Homo sapiens: one gene and its partner. The protein of the gene in region 1 purifies or fractionates together with the protein of each later gene. This does not show direct contact. Each region holds a gene or a part of one and is shown in the gene's direction. Other genes may lie near its edges.

Region 1 (3,819 bases):
GGTGAGTCTCCAGTATGGGAGGAAGTGTCCAACTCTCTGCTCTTTGTAGACATTCCTGCAAAAAAGGTTTGCCGGTGGGATTCATTCACCAAGCAAGTACAGCGAGTGACCATGGGTAAGGATGAAGGCTGGACTCAGATCAGCCAGCTACCTTTTCCCAGGGGAGGGGCGGTCACCACGGCACCCTTCTTGTTAAAGCACACTGACTACACTTGTCACGCTGTCTGTCCCCACTCCATATCCTCCCACTTTGACCCAGGGTTTAATTATGGATGGTCAATACTTTCCTCTTCCTCTTTGAATGAGGGGCAACATTCCTAGTTTTTTTTTGGGGGGGGGGGTGTTTTTGTTTATTTTTTGTTTTGTTTTTGTTGAGACAGGGTCTCACCGTGTTGCCCTGGCTGGAGTGCCATGGTGTGATCACGGCTCACTGCAGCCTTGATCTCCTGGGGCTCAAGGGATCCTCCTGCCTCAGCCTCCCTAGTAGCTGTGACTACAGGTGCGTGCCACTATGTCCAGCTAGTTTGTATTTTTTGTAGAGATGGTGTTTCACCATGTTGCCCAGGCTAGTCTCAAACTCCTGGGCTCAAGAGATCCACCCACTTCGACCTCCCAAAGTGTTGGGATTACAAGCGTGAGCTACCACGCCCAGCCCATTCCCAGTTTTGTTTGGATGCTGGGGCACTCTAGTTCCTGTCTTTCCTTAATACCTTCAGATAACCATGGAAAGTTAAAGACCCAGTTATCTGCCTTGGGTCAGGCCAAGACCTTAATTTTCAAACAAAACAAAACAAAACAAAAACAGGTGCCTCTCTTCCTTGAAAGTGAAAACTAGCTTTTGGATGTATAAAGCATCAACCAGGACCGTCTTTGTTTACTGCACAAAATAGAATTCATGATGGAATTTCATGTGCATTTGAGTGTGATGCGTTTATGGCCCTGCGAATTCTAAAGAAGGGATTTATCACTTTCTATGGCCCAAGGGAATAGGCTTAATGTAATTACTGATAGAGAAAGAAGTTTCTTGTTTTCACTGAGCCCATGGGAAAAAATATCAGGAATTCCTATAATCTTGGGACATTCTTTCTCAACCCAGAACTGGGACCTCAACTTTTTTTTTTTTTTTTTTTTTTTTTGAGACAAGGTCTGGCTCTGCCACCCAGGCTGGAGTGCAATAATGCAAACATGGCTTACTACAGCCTCAATCTCCCAGGCTCAAGCGATCCTCCCACCTTAGCTTCCTGAGTAGCTGGAACCACAGGCATGTGCCACCACACCTAGCTAATTTTTATTTATTTTTTGTAGAGACAGGGTCTCCCTATATTGCCCAGGCTGGTCTTGAACTCTTGGGCTCAAGCAATCCTCCTGCCTTGGCCTCCCAAAGTGCTGAGATTACAGGTGTGGGCCACCACGCCCAGCCTTAAACTTCTTTATTTTTAAATGAAAGGGAACAAATTTTTAATTCACCCAGAAGTATGACTGTGGTAAAGTGACTGTGACCTCTGAGGGTAGAATGGGGATGGGGTCCCCTTGCCTTTTCTAGTCTCTTTTGCAGCAGACACACATGCCAACCTGTGATCTGAAAAGCCCGCCCCCACCACCACCCGCCCCCAACCCATGGAAAAAGCTGTGGTGTCAGCAGTAGCTTAGAGAGCTACCAAGAGAAGTCTCAGGCTGCAGGTTGGGATCCCCAATGAGAGTGTGTCCTACACATTCCTTGGGACCCTTGATGGCTCCAATCAAAGTGTGAGCAGGGCTTTGAGCTAAGGGTGGCTCCTGAAGCTCCCATTATCTTACACTGAAGGGGTGCTTAGGAAATGCTTTCAAAATCTATTCTGATAAATTTATTTCCTGTGACCATTCACCACAGCAATCAATCTCTCCACTTAAAAAAATAAAATAAATTTAAAAAAAAAGCTTTCTTGGCCGGGTGCAGTAGCTCATGCCTGTAATCTCAACACTTTTGGGAGGCTGAGGTGGGTGGATCACTTGAGGCCAGGAGTTCAAGACCAGCCTGACCATCATGGTGAAACCGTGTCTCTACTAAAAATACAAAAATTAGCCAGGCATGGTAGCACAGCCTGTAGTCCCAGCTACTAGGGAGGCTGAGGCAGGAGAATCCTTTGAACCTGGGAGGCGGAGGTTGCAGTGAGTCAAGATCACGACACTGCACTCCAGCCTGGGCAACAGAGCAAGACTCCATCTCAAAAAAAAAAAAAGTTTTCTTATACATGGAAAAATATTAAATGAAGAAAACCTAAAATTTAAAAACATAAAATGTAGTAATATAATGAAGAGATGTGATTGTACTATCTCTGCATCTACATTCCTATCTGTTTATTATTTTTTACCATGCTTACTTCCAAAAAAGGATCTGAGAAACAATTTGCAATTAAATACATATAAAATAGGGCCCCTTAGAAAAGACGAATCCTGGGCCTGGCGTGGTGGCTCACGCCTAATATCCCAACACTTTGTGAGGCCAAGGCGGGTGGATCACCTGAGGTCAGGAGTTCGAAATCAGCCTGGCCAACATGGTGAAACCCCATCTCTACTAAAAATACAAATAAAAATTAGCTAGGCGTGGTGCATGCCTGTAATCCCAGCTACTCAGGAGGCTGAGGCAGGAGAATTGCTTGAACCCAGGAGGCAGAGGTTGCAGTGAGTTGAGATTGCACCATTGCACTCCAGCCTGGGAAACAAGAGCAAAACTCTGTCTCAAACAAAACAAACAAAAAAAAAAATGCAAATCCTGGATTGGAGAGGGAGAGAGATGTCACAAAACCTAGTTGCTGTAAATAAACTCGGTTTGTGTCTCTGAATTTTCTGGAGCATTTTCTGGCAAAATGGGGCATCACTCGCTCTGTGATGACTGTCCTGGTGCCCCTAGATTAGAAACTCCTCCTCTGAACTGGATGTGGCACCTGCCCCATATCATGGCCACTGGGCTTTCACTTCTCTGCTTTTCCCACAAGACTGGGAGCTTCCAGAGGAGTTGGGTTTTTTTCACATTTCTATCTATTGCTGCCCAGATCAGCACACAAAATTCATACTCAACAAATGTACTAGGTTACATAGCCTTCCCTACTCAACAGAAGGAAGAGAGCGCTCCCATTGTCACGAGAGCTGGGCTCCCGCTCTAAGAGATGCCAGGTAGCACAGTGATCTCAGTGGCCTCAGCCACTAAACTGGTACTGTTTTTTAACTGTTGCTTTACCTCTACAGATGCCCCAGTCAGCTCCGTGGCTCTTCGCCAGTCGGGAGGCTATGTTGCCACCATTGGAACAAAGTTCTGTGCTTTGAACTGGAAAGAACAATCAGCAGTTGTCTTGGCCACGGTGGATAACGACAAGAAAAACAATCGCTTCAATGATGGGAAGGTGGATCCCGCCGGGAGGTACTTTGCTGGTAAGATTTCTCTTAACACCTACTTATTACTGAGCCTTGGAGGAAATACTTTGACATACAAAGTTCTCACTACTGACCAGGGTGGTGGCTCCCGCCTGTAATCCAGCACTTTGGGAGCCAAGGCGAGTAGGTCGCATGAGCCCAGGAGTTCGATAACTGCCTGGGCAACATAGTGAAACCCTGTCTCTACCAAAAATACAAAAAATTAGCTGGGCCTGGTGGCATGCATCTGTGTTCCCAGCTACTCAGGAGGCTGAGTTGGAAGGATCATCTGAGCCCAGGAGTTTGAGGCTGCAGTGAGCCAAGATCGTGCCACTGCACTCTAACCTGGGTGACAGAGTGAGACCCGGTCTCGAAAAAAGAAAGAAAGAAAGTAAGTAAGTTAGTTAGTTCTCACTACCTCAAAAGTGT
Region 2 (2,799 bases), on another chromosome or scaffold:
CCCGGCTACGAGCCCGAAGTTGTGGCAGTGCACCCCGGCGGGGACACGGTGGCAATTGGGGGTGTGGTAAGTCGCTTTCCTCTCCCCCGTGCTCTCTGTCCTTGGTATCTGGGTGATTTGGGGACAGTGTGAGCTGTGTGAGTACCGGGGCTGTCTCAGGGAAGGCGAGGGGTCAGGGGAAGGATGGGGGCAGTCGGGGCGTGGGACCTGCTCTGGGGCCCAGCCACGCCATCTCCTGCCACCCAGGGCTGGAGCCTTCCCCTCCCCTCCTCGGCACTTCCCCCACCTCACTGCCCGGGTGCCCACAAGACTGTGGACAGTGAGGTAGAGGGAGTGCCGAGGAGGGCACAGCTGTGCCTCAGAGCCAGCCCCATGAGTGGCGGCAGGAGGGGAGCGCAAGAGGGTAGCAGGTCAGGAAATCAAGGAATGGCATCCCCTGGGGCTGGGCTCGGCTCACAGGTTGAAGGAAGAGTGACAGAAGTTTCCCAGCATCTTCAAGGTGCGGTACTAACCAGACATTTTACAGTTTCCCTTGAGTTCTGCCTCGGCATAATTCTCATGCCCTTGAATTTGTGTGTGTGGTCTGGTCACAGTGTGCCTGGCCAAGTCCTGAGTGCTCTGTAGAAGAGCTCATTTCCCCTCTCCAGCCCAGGAGGGCAGCCCTCTGATAACCCAGTCCTGCAGCAGGCGTGGCAGTGCCCTCCATGCTAGGGGCTGGGTGGGTCTATGTGCTGCCAGGTCCTTCAGGTGCCGGATGTGACCAGGGCATGGAGTGGCTTCCTCCACCAGCCAGCTTGAGGGCCTCATGAGACCAGCGGTGCCCCGAGGTACCAACAGCTGTTTTCATAGAGCTGCGTAGGTTTCAGGCCCATCCACGGGAAGAGCCATGCCCAGCTCCTGGCATGGGCCCAGCAGAGCAGCAGTCAGTGGGAACGGCACAGTTTCTTAAGCCCTCGACCCCCCCTTCACAAAGGATGGGTGTGGTGTGTGTGTTCAGGGGTGGCTCACTTCCTCTCTGTCCCTGCCGTAGGACGGCAACGTCCGCCTGTATTCCATCCTGGGCACCACGCTGAAGGATGAGGGCAAGCTCCTAGAGGCCAAGGGCCCCGTGACCGACGTGGCCTACTCCCACGACGGCGCCTTCCTCGCGGTGTGCGACGCCAGCAAGGTGGTCACAGTGTTCAGCGTTGCTGACGGCTACTCGGTGAGTGGCGGCGGGCTCCTCCTCTGTCCCCGTGCTGGGCGGTGCAGGTGGCAGTGGGAGGTTATCTGTGACTTGGTGACCTTGAGCTGAGCCTGTCTGAGCTGTAGTTTTCTTGCCTCTACAAGTAGCAGGTGCCTCGTGCCATGCTTCTGAGGAGTCAGTGGGTTTGCAGGGGTCGCTGGCATAGAGTTAGCGCGTGAGAAACCTCGGTCCTTATTGTCGCCATGAGGGATAAGCGAGGTGATATGGGCAACTGCGGCCTGAACCTGACCTGCCACCTCTCTTGTTTTCAACCTGCAACTAGGAGAACAATGTTTTTTATGGACACCATGCAAAAATCGTCTGCCTGGCCTGGTCCCCAGACAATGAACACTTTGCCTCCGGTGGCATGGACATGATGGTGTATGTTTGGACCCTGAGTGACCCGGAAACCAGAGTCAAGATCCAAGGTGACTTCCGCCCCCAGGCCTTGGCAGGGACCACCCATGGTTCGGGGCTCCATGGGCCACCTCACAGGCTGTCCCCTGGCTTCAGTCCCCAGGGCTAAGTAGCCTCTGTGCTTCTAGACAGGTGGCCCGGAAGAGTTGTGGGTCTCCTTCCATCCAGCAAACACCAGCTGCGCTGCTGGCCGTACTGAGGGACCACGGGGGCCCCATGCACAGGACACCTGCTGAGCTGAGTGAAGGCCTCACTTTTGACATCTTCACTTCCCCCACTCACCCCTTAAATCCCACCTGGGACCAGGGTCTCCCCCTCCCTAAGACAGCCACGTCCAGTGTATAATGTGAGCCTCATGTGGCGTTGAAATTTCCTGGTAGCCACATTTAAAAAAGAAACAGGTGAAATGATTTGTAACAGTAGGTTTTATTTAGCCCCGCATGTCATCATTTCTCCCTGAGGGGGTTGTGATGTCCCCGCGTGGCCATGCACGTATTGTAAGGCAGCTCTGTGTTGTCCAAACCCTCCCCTCCCCGAGTGCCCCCCTACCACTCTCCTCCTAGTGTGTAGTCAAGTCCCCTCATCCATTCTCCTTGAAGACATCCTTTTGTGTTAAACATTAATGGGGCCCTTTCCTATTTAAAAATGTCTGAGCCCACCCCCAGAGCCCATTCCCCAGCTGCAGGCTTCAGGTGCAGGACAGGCAAAGAGGGAAGGCAGCCCGGTCTGGAAGGGAGGAGAGACAAAGCAGGTTTCAACGTCCGTCCTGGTTTATAAGGCAATCGCCAGTCTGGTAGTGAGAATCAAACAAGTTCATGAATGAAATGGATCCAGAAAAAAATACAGCAAGAGCTAGTCAGATAGAGATTAGGAGGTCGGGGTCTGTGTCTTCACTGTGAGGTCACAGGCCACCAAACATGAAGTGACCTCAGCATCGGGTTCTCGTGCAGATAGTTGAGTTCTGCATCTGGAAAAGAGCCAGCCTGGTGATGTGGACAGAGTGCTAAAGCCTGGCCTCACAGCCAAGTCATGCTTGGTGGTTGAAGGCGCTCCTGGGCACCTGTGCCACCCGCAGGCCAAGGCTTCCTTCATCAGGATGTATGCCGTGCCAGGCAGGGGTGGGGGCTGAATCTCACCCTGTCTAGGTGGGGCTGCAG

The links.
Region 2: the proteins of RGN (region 1) and WDR1 fractionate together in Homo sapiens (co-fractionation; one large-scale study listed by BioGRID). This does not show direct contact.

Annotation. Positions count from the first base shown.
Region 1 is NC_000023.11:47,081,193-47,085,011, forward strand, and holds part of RGN (regucalcin), read left to right. Parts: coding exon 1-115; intron 116-3,225; coding exon 3,226-3,408; intron 3,409-3,819. UniProt on the Homo sapiens protein: Gluconolactonase with low activity towards other sugar lactones, including gulonolactone and galactonolactone. Can also hydrolyze diisopropyl phosphorofluoridate and phenylacetate (in vitro). Calcium-binding protein.
Region 2 is NC_000004.12:10,076,158-10,078,956, reverse strand, and holds part of WDR1 (WD repeat-containing protein 1), read left to right. Parts: coding exon 1-66; intron 67-264; exon of another isoform or gene 265-346; intron 347-1,030; coding exon 1,031-1,204; intron 1,205-1,508; coding exon 1,509-1,653; intron 1,654-2,799.